Regions from separate parts of the Homo sapiens genome. Here region 2 is linked to region 1. A link means that fine-mapping ties the variant in region 1 to the expression of a gene that starts in the linked region. Tissue or cell type: whole blood. Region 1 holds a variant in brackets; the other region holds the start of a gene. All regions are shown on one strand. Distances are between the middles of the regions. Region 1 has its middle 24 kb from the start of SCUBE3. Region 2 holds the start of PPARD (peroxisome proliferator activated receptor delta).

The links. PIP is the estimated chance that this variant, and not a neighbour inherited with it, causes the effect.
Region 2: it holds the start of PPARD, and the variant in region 1 is the best candidate, but not a certain one, in a credible set for the expression of PPARD in whole blood (TOPMed, PIP 0.59).

Annotation. Positions count from the first base shown.
Region 1 is chr6:35,187,680-35,191,679 of GRCh38, reverse strand. No RefSeq gene overlaps it. Among named protein-coding and RNA genes, the nearest start is that of SCUBE3, 24 kb to the left of the region's middle. The variant G/A (reference allele first, on the strand shown) is at 2,131.
Region 2 is chr6:35,340,386-35,344,385 of GRCh38, reverse strand. It overlaps PPARD (peroxisome proliferator activated receptor delta), which reads right to left and starts at 1,828. Exons shown (of 8, transcript NM_006238.5): 1 at 1,705-1,828. RefSeq lists silencers at 1,367-1,416, 1,447-1,586, 1,767-1,976.

The DNA of each region.
Region 1 (4,000 bases):
CTCTCCAATACTTCTGTTTATTCCCTCATGTTCCATCCTTCCAGCCAGCTTGGCACCTCATCATTTCCTACCTCCCCCGTCATGGGACCCTCTGCTTTCTTTCTACCTGTCTGAATTCTGAAGACTCTCCCAGGGCTTGTTCCCCCATCTTGCCTCCTCCTGGGAGCCTCCCTGGACTACTGTAGCGCTTGGCAGGATCTCCTCCTTCTGAAATGTAAAAGTATGTGTTTTCTATCCTTTCTGTGATTCTAAACACACCCTGCCCCTATACCACCTGCCCAGCTAAATAGAGGCCAGAGGCCATGGCTTTTGTGCCTTGGCGTCCAAGCCCCATCCTGCCTTGTACAAAGCAATTGCTCAACTAATATTTGTTGGTTTGGGGCTTCTTAAGGGCTACCCATGAGATTACCAACAAATTAGAGAATTTCAGTGATGGAAGGGACCTAAGAGCTTGAATTCTTGCTAAGGGGTGTCTGGGTTCAGCTTACATACCTTTAATGACAGGGATCTTACCACTTCCTGGGGCAACCCATTCCCTTGCCTGTAACTCTGACCATAAGAAAGTTCTTCCCCACGTTGAGCTAAAACCTGCTGCCTTCTGGCTTTCCCCACCCTACTCCCAACTAGGTCACATCAAACTATTCCAGTCCTCTTTCCTCACGACCACCCTTCAGATATTTGAGGGCAGCAATCTCCTACCTCTGCAGTCTTTTCTTTTCCAGGGGGAAACACCTGTAGTCCTAACCTTCAGTGCCCCAATGCCCCTGATGACCATGGACTTTGGGTATTCCCCCCCACCCCTGTGCTGGGCCTCTCCCACATCCCTGCTGAACTCATTCTTCTCACAAAATCCCCCTTCTTTTGGGGTTAGGATGGATGTTACAAGCTTTCAAATGGGGCTTGCCTCCGTGTAGTGATTTGAGACATCCTAAAAGAAGGAAATCACTCTCTCACGGGGTTTTTTAAAAAATGAGGAGATGAGAGGAGTCCAGCAGCTGCCCTCTCCTCTCCTGAGGTAGCAGAATCCAATAACCAATTTTACCTGCACATGTCAGTGGAGGTAAAATTGCCACACACCTCAAAGGTTGTCTTGTGGGTCATTTATGTACATTTTAATATGGCTATTTCAGAGGGACTAGCAAATGTTTTAAACCAAAGGGGTGACTCATGGTGGCATTTCAGGCCAGTGAAATATTTTGGGAGAAGCAGGTCTTGTGGTGCCTGGCCTGCCTCTGCCTTGGCTCTCTCTGGGTGATGGAGAGCTTCCTGTCCCAAGTATATTGGCATTAGGACCAGGTACTTCCCAAGAGGCTGCCCCCTCCATACCCTGGCCCTCATAGCCTGTGCTAATTATTGAAACTTATGCTTTCCTGCATTGTAGAGTTGACTATCTTTCTTATGTATCTTTTTCTTATAGCAAATGAAGGACTCCTTGAAAGAAGTGGCAGGGATCTCAAAAATATTCTTATCAATGTTCTGTATCTTGATCATAGTGGTGTTTACACAAGGGTATGCATTTATGGAAACTCATCAAACTGGACACTTTAAGTCTGGGGTACCCAACCCCCAGACCAGTACCTGTCTGTGGTCTGTTAGGGACTGGGCTGTATAGCAGGAGGTGAGCAGCGGGCAGGTGAGCATTACCACCTGTGCTCGGCCTCCTATCAGATCAGTGGCAGCATTAGATTTTCACAGGCACTCAAACACTATTGTGAACCACGCATGCAAGGGATCCAGGTTGCATGCTCCTTGTGAGAATCTAATGCCTGATGATCTGAGGTGGAACAATTTCATCCTGAAACTACCCTCACCCTATTCCTGGTCCATGGAAAAATTCTCTTCCACAAAACTGGTCCCTGGTGCCAAAAAGGTCGGGGACTGCTGCTTTAAGTGGTTGCATTTTATTGTATGTGAATTATAACTTGATTAAGGTGGTTTTTAAAAAATGTTTTCATATCCCTTAGAGAGTCTGGAGTCACATCCTGCTGATACCTGGGTTCAATGTGCATTTCTGGATTGATTTCCTTAGTTAAGCTATACCCAGAGCTATAGCCAAGAGCCATTTTAGCTTTTATTCTCAACTCCTGATCTGACAGGAGGCAGAGCACAGGTGGTAATGCTCACCTGCCC[G/A]CTGCTCACCTCCTGCTGTGCAGCCCAGTCCCTAACAGACCACAGACAGGTACTAGTCTAGGGGTTGGGTACCCCAGACTTAAAGTGTCCAGTTTGATGAGTTTCCATAAATGCATACCCTTGTGTAAACACCACTATGATCAAGATACAGAACATTGATAAGAATATTTTTGAGATCCCTGCCACTTCTTTCAAGGAGTCCTTCATTTGCTATAAGAAAAAGATATATAAGAAAGATAATCAACTCTACAATGCAGGAAAGCATAAGTTTCAATAATTAGCACACTGCTGACTTGACGTGGCTCCTCAAACAACCAGACAGAAATAGAGCTCTCCATTCACTGACCTTGCCTCTGACCCGATCCTCCTACCTGGTGGCTCAGGCCCAAATCCCAGGAGACACACTTGATTCCTCACCCTGCCTGTCTTGCAGGATTGCTTTAATATGATTATTGGCACCACTAATACTGCTGTGATTACAGTTCCCTCATACACCTGCCCCCAGCCTAGTCTTGCCAACTGCTTACCTAGAGAATTGAAGGCTTCTTGTTGGCCTTCTGAATGCAGGGGCACTACCACCCAAGGGTGATTCACCAGACCGTGGCTGTTGCCTTGAGCCTTCCAGCCACCCTGTTCCAGAAGCCTGAGGGGCCACCAGCTTTGAGCCAAGGTTCTAGCCATCCTGTCTGAGCTTGGCTGAAGGTGTTTGGGCCCTCAGATCCTAGGCCCTTCTGCCCAAGCACCTGGCTTTTGTCTTGTCATGAGTTTATGAGCATGTCCTTTAAAAAGAAGACAGTGGGCTGGGCGCAGTGGCTCATGCCTGTAATCCCAGCACTTTGGGAGGCCGAGGCGGGCGGATCACAAGGTCAGGAGATCGAGACCATCCTGGCTAACATGGTGAAACCCTGTCTCTACTAAAAATACAAAAAAAAAATTAGCCAGGCATGGTGGTGGGCGCCTGTAGTCCCAGCTACTTGGGAGGCTGAGGCAGGAGAATGGCGTGAACCTGGGAGGCAGAGCTTGCAGTGAGCCAAGATCATGCCACTGCACTCCAGCCTGGGCAACAGAGCAAGACTCCATCTCCAAAAAAAAGAAAAAAAAAGAAGACAGTGGTTTCCTGTGGGTAAGAGAATGAGGTGATTTCTCACCAGACTGCAAGCTCACTGAGGGCAGAGACTGAGTTCTATCCCCCTTCATTACCCTCAGCTTCTAGTTGTGTGCTTGGTACGTAGATGGTGTTTGATAAACATATATGAACTGACTTAATGAGTTCAATTTAGGCCAGGCACAGTGGCTCACGCCAGTAATCCTAGCACTTTGGGAGGCTGAGGTGGGAGGATCGCTTGAGACCAGGAGTTCAAGATCAGTCTGGGCAACATGATGAAACCCTGTTTCTACAAAAAATACAAAAAAAACTAGCAGAGCCTGGTAGTGCACATCTGTAGTCCTAGTTACTTGGGAGGTTGAGGTGGGAGGATCACTTGAGCCTGGGGGCAGATGTTGTAGTGAGCTGTGATTGCACCACTGCACTCCAGTCTGGGTGACAGAGTGAGACCCCGTATCAAAAGGAAAAAAGAGTTCAACTTTATTAAAACCTTCGGGGAATGTCCCACTCATCAAACATAACCAAGTGATGGTGAGGATGTGGAATGACTTGGTAAAACCATTTTAGAGAGCTATTTGGCAATATGTCATCAATAGGAAGATGCCCTCCTAAGTCTTTACTCTGAAGAAGCTCTGTTTTGTAGGTGCATAAGAATGTTCATGGCAGTGCTGTATGTAATCATGAAAAGCTGGAAGCAGCTGACATGGAGACTGGACATTACGGTAGTCACACAAGGGACTGTATACAGCACAGAACCAATCACAG
Region 2 (4,000 bases), 150 kb before region 1:
TGCTCAAGTTCCTGACAAGGTCTAACTACTGCAGCCCCACAGCCCACCAGGGTAGTTATCAATCTGATACCTCATACTATGCCTGGGCAAAGGGAACAGAGCTCTGGGATTGCCGTTCCTCCTGGATACAGAGGAAATTAAGCTCCCAGGGAAAAAGAGGGACAATTTGGATTCCCTAGATTCAGAAAAGAACAAAGAAAAAAGAGGGAGAAGAGACTCCAAGAGAACATGTTCAGTGACCAACATCAGAGGCACATTCAGTTGGCCAAAGATTGTCAAAGAGATATGAGAGAAAATCAGCAGCTGTTTCAAGCCACCAATAATAAAAGGGGACAGATGCCCGCCAGCCCCAGGGCTATCAGGCCAGCAATCTATTTCAAAACTCAAACGGGAAAAAAAAAAGTTCTGGAGCCAGTACACAGAAAAAAGGTTGAGGACCACAAGTATTTTCTGGAGCACAGCTTCTGGAGAATTCTCTTAGTCCTTTCGGATGGAGCACAGGGTGGAGGGTGGGAGTGAGGGCAGAGAGAGGCTGGGGTATCATGGTATAAGTGTATTCCACACATCCAGAGTGGAAAGACACAAAACCCCGGTTCCTGGAAGGGGAAAAGAATTGGACAAAGCCTCCGGCTACCCGTGGCACACATCCAGCTCAGCGCCGTCTCCCCCAAGGGTTCCTGGAAGTCAACAGCCCCATAAAGGGGAAGTATTAAAGCTGAGATAAGAAGAATGGCCTACAAATTGGACATCATCTCTGATGCAACACCCACGTACATTCTCCCACACAATCTGTTATTTCCTTTAGTCAATCAGCCTCTTAATTCGATCAAGGTCTGAACACCTCCACCCCCACCCCATGGTTATGTCAACTGCAGGTCAAGTGAAAGTAGAGTAGAGTGTGGAGCTAAGGCTTCTCCCTGAAGCAGGGGAAAGGAACAGGGAGAGAAAAGGAGGTGGGCGACAGGAATGTAGGGGACAGAATTGATACGAAGGAAATCGGAAAAAGGAGCAAAAACAGGGCCTCTCAGGGAACCAAGGTGAGAGTCTTAGGGAGACAGGGACTGCAGGCACGGAGTTGGAAAAAGCCTAGGAACACCCTGGGGAAGAGGATGGGGACCCATAATACTAGGAGGGATCAGACCACAGATAAGAAGGGGACAGGGATGGGGAGAGAGAGTAAAGCCTGAGAGAGCAAGGATGGGAGGATGAAGGCAGGAGACAAGGATAACGAGGGGGACAGAGGAAAAGATCCCAGAGAAGACTCTCGCTAGATAGGGCAGTGGATTCAGGAACACCAGAAACGGGTGAAGGAAGAGGTCAGAGGCAGGGGAGGGGAATGGGAGAGGCCCCCGGGCCTGAGACGGGGTTCTCACAAGTGGGAGAAGACGAAGCCACCAGGCCCAAGAGGGGGCAAAGAGTAGGGTGGAAGGAGGCCCGTATTTCGGACTCACTCAAGCAGCTATGGGGGTCCAAGGGCGGGGGGGCGCAGGGTCAGCGGGGCGCCTACATGGCAACGCACGACGGCTGACCGGAGCGGGCCGGAGCATCAGGAAGCCGCCGTGACGCTGTCCGCGGACCCCGGCAGCTCCCCGCACCCCGTTCCCCGCCGCCGGGCCTTGCGCCCCAGTCCCGCTGGCCGCCTCGGCCCAGGCCCGGCGCTTCCCTCCGCCACTTGCCTGACCGCTTCTCTCGTCTCGGACTGACCTGTCCCGGCTGCCTACGGCGCCACCGCCGCCGTCCCGCAGGCTCCGCAGAATTCTCCCGCTCCTGCCAAAACTTTTCCCATTAATCCCCAGGTCCGCGGCGGCCGCAGCGTCACACGCTCCGCGGCCCGGCCCCGCCCCCGCCAGCGAGACGTCACCGCGCTGCTCGGCCTTTCCCTCCCCACGCCCCCTTCCGCCCGGCGGCGGCCAATCACCACGCCTCCTGGAGACTCCCCTAATTCTGCCTCTCCGCCCACCGCACGCTGCCCCGGGCCAGCCTGTGGCGCCCTCTGGTGCGGGATGCGGACGTAGCAGCTAAGGGAGGAGCAGGGGAGCGCCAGGTCCAGTAGAACAAGTCCAGCAAGTGACACAAGAGGGAATTTAAAGCTGGAAGGGAATTTCTAGGTCATCTAGTGCAACCTCCTCATCTTCCAGTGAAGAAACTTAGTCCTAGAAAAGGTACGTGACTTGCAGTGACAAGTCTGGAGAGACTCTTAACCCAGTGCTAGGTCCACTGGAGGAGATCATATCGCCTATAATTTTCAAAAAAGGGCTTTCCGCCTTCAAGAGGCTTCTACAACTGGAAATTTACGGTCTTAGAGTTCTTAACCTTTCTTCCCATGTGCTTATGCAATACGCTTATTCACCTAAAATAGGGGACATCCTCCTTATTGTTGTAGAAAATTCTGTTCTTATTAATCCACATCTTTAAGACCTGGAAGGGACCTATTATCCCAACCTACCGCTTAAGATGTACCACAGGAAACTACCTAGCAGCTGGGAGGCAATCTGGTGGAAGAAGTTGGCTTTCATCTGACGATGAACAAAGCTTGACTCTCAGGTATATGACCAATGCCTCCCCTCCATCATCATTAAAGATGACCCCTCCCCTCTCCTTCGGCCACACCTTCCGTAGGCCGCAAGCTCCTTAGGCCACACCTAGCTATCTGGATGAGTGATTTTTTTTTTTTTTTTTTTTTTTGAGACACAGTTTCACTCTGTCGCCCCTGCTGGAGTGCAGTTGCGCAATCTCAGCCCGCTGCAACCTCCGCCTCCCGGGTTCAAGCGATTATCCTGCCTCAACCTCCCAAGTAGCTGGGATTACAGGCATGCGCCACACGCCCAGCTAATTATTGTAATTTTAGTAGAGACAGGGTTTTGCCATGTTGCCCAGGCTGGTCTTGAACTCCTGGACTCAAGTTATCCTCCCACCTTAGCCTCCCAAAGTGCTGGAATTACAGGCGTGAGCCACCGTGCCTGGCAGGGATGAGTGATTTTTTCCCCCTTCTTTCTGCTTCTCTTTTTCTTTTTCTTTTTTTTCCCCTACTTTTTGAAATGCTTGTGCATTATATTTGTAACTTAGATGTCAACCTCCTTGCCCTTTGAGATTGAGGTAAAAATGGACGGTGAAAGTCAGAGTCCCTCCCTTAACATATTTGCAAATATCTGGGGATTTATATTCTCCTAAATATCTCTGCCTCTGGGTTTCTGCTTTTGCCAGGCTGTTGCGTACCACAGTTCAGAAGTCTGGAGAGGAAACTCAGCTCTCCCTAAGGACTGCCCGCACCCTTCCCACACAAAACATTGACGAGTACAAAGACATTAGGGTACTCTGGGCCCTGGGGGAGGTCATATGATACATGGCAAACAGTTTAAACTCACCCCTCAGAAGTTTTTTTTTTTTTTTTTTCCCAAGGCAGAAGAATTTTTCTTAGTGCAGAACAAAATGAGAAGTCTCCCATGTCTACTTCTTTCTACACAGACACGGCAACCATCCGATTTCTCAATCTTTTCCCCACCTTTCCCGCCTTTCTATTCCACAAAGTCGCCATTGTCATCCTGGCCCGTTCTCAATGAGCTGTTGGGCACACCTCCCAGACGGGGTGGTGGCCGGGCAGAGGGGCTCCTCACTTCCCAGTAGGGGCGGCCGGGCAGAGGCGCCCCTCACCTCCCAGACGGGGCGGCTGGCCGGGTGGGGGGCTGACCCCCCTACCTCCCTCCCGGACGGGGCGGCTGGCCGGGCGGGGGGCTGACCCCCCACCTCCCTCCCGGACGGGGTGGCTGCCGGGCGGAGACGCTCCTCACTTCCCAGATGGGGTGGCTGCCGGGCGGAGAGGCTCCTCACTTCTCAGACGGGGCAGCTGCCGGGCGGAGGGGCTCCTCACTTCTCAGACGGGGTGGTTGCCAGGCAGAGGGTCTCCTCACTTCTCAGACGGGGCGGCCGGGCAGAGACGCTCTTCACCTCCCAGACGGGGTCGCTGCCGGGCAGAGGCGCTCCTCATATCCCAGATGGGGCG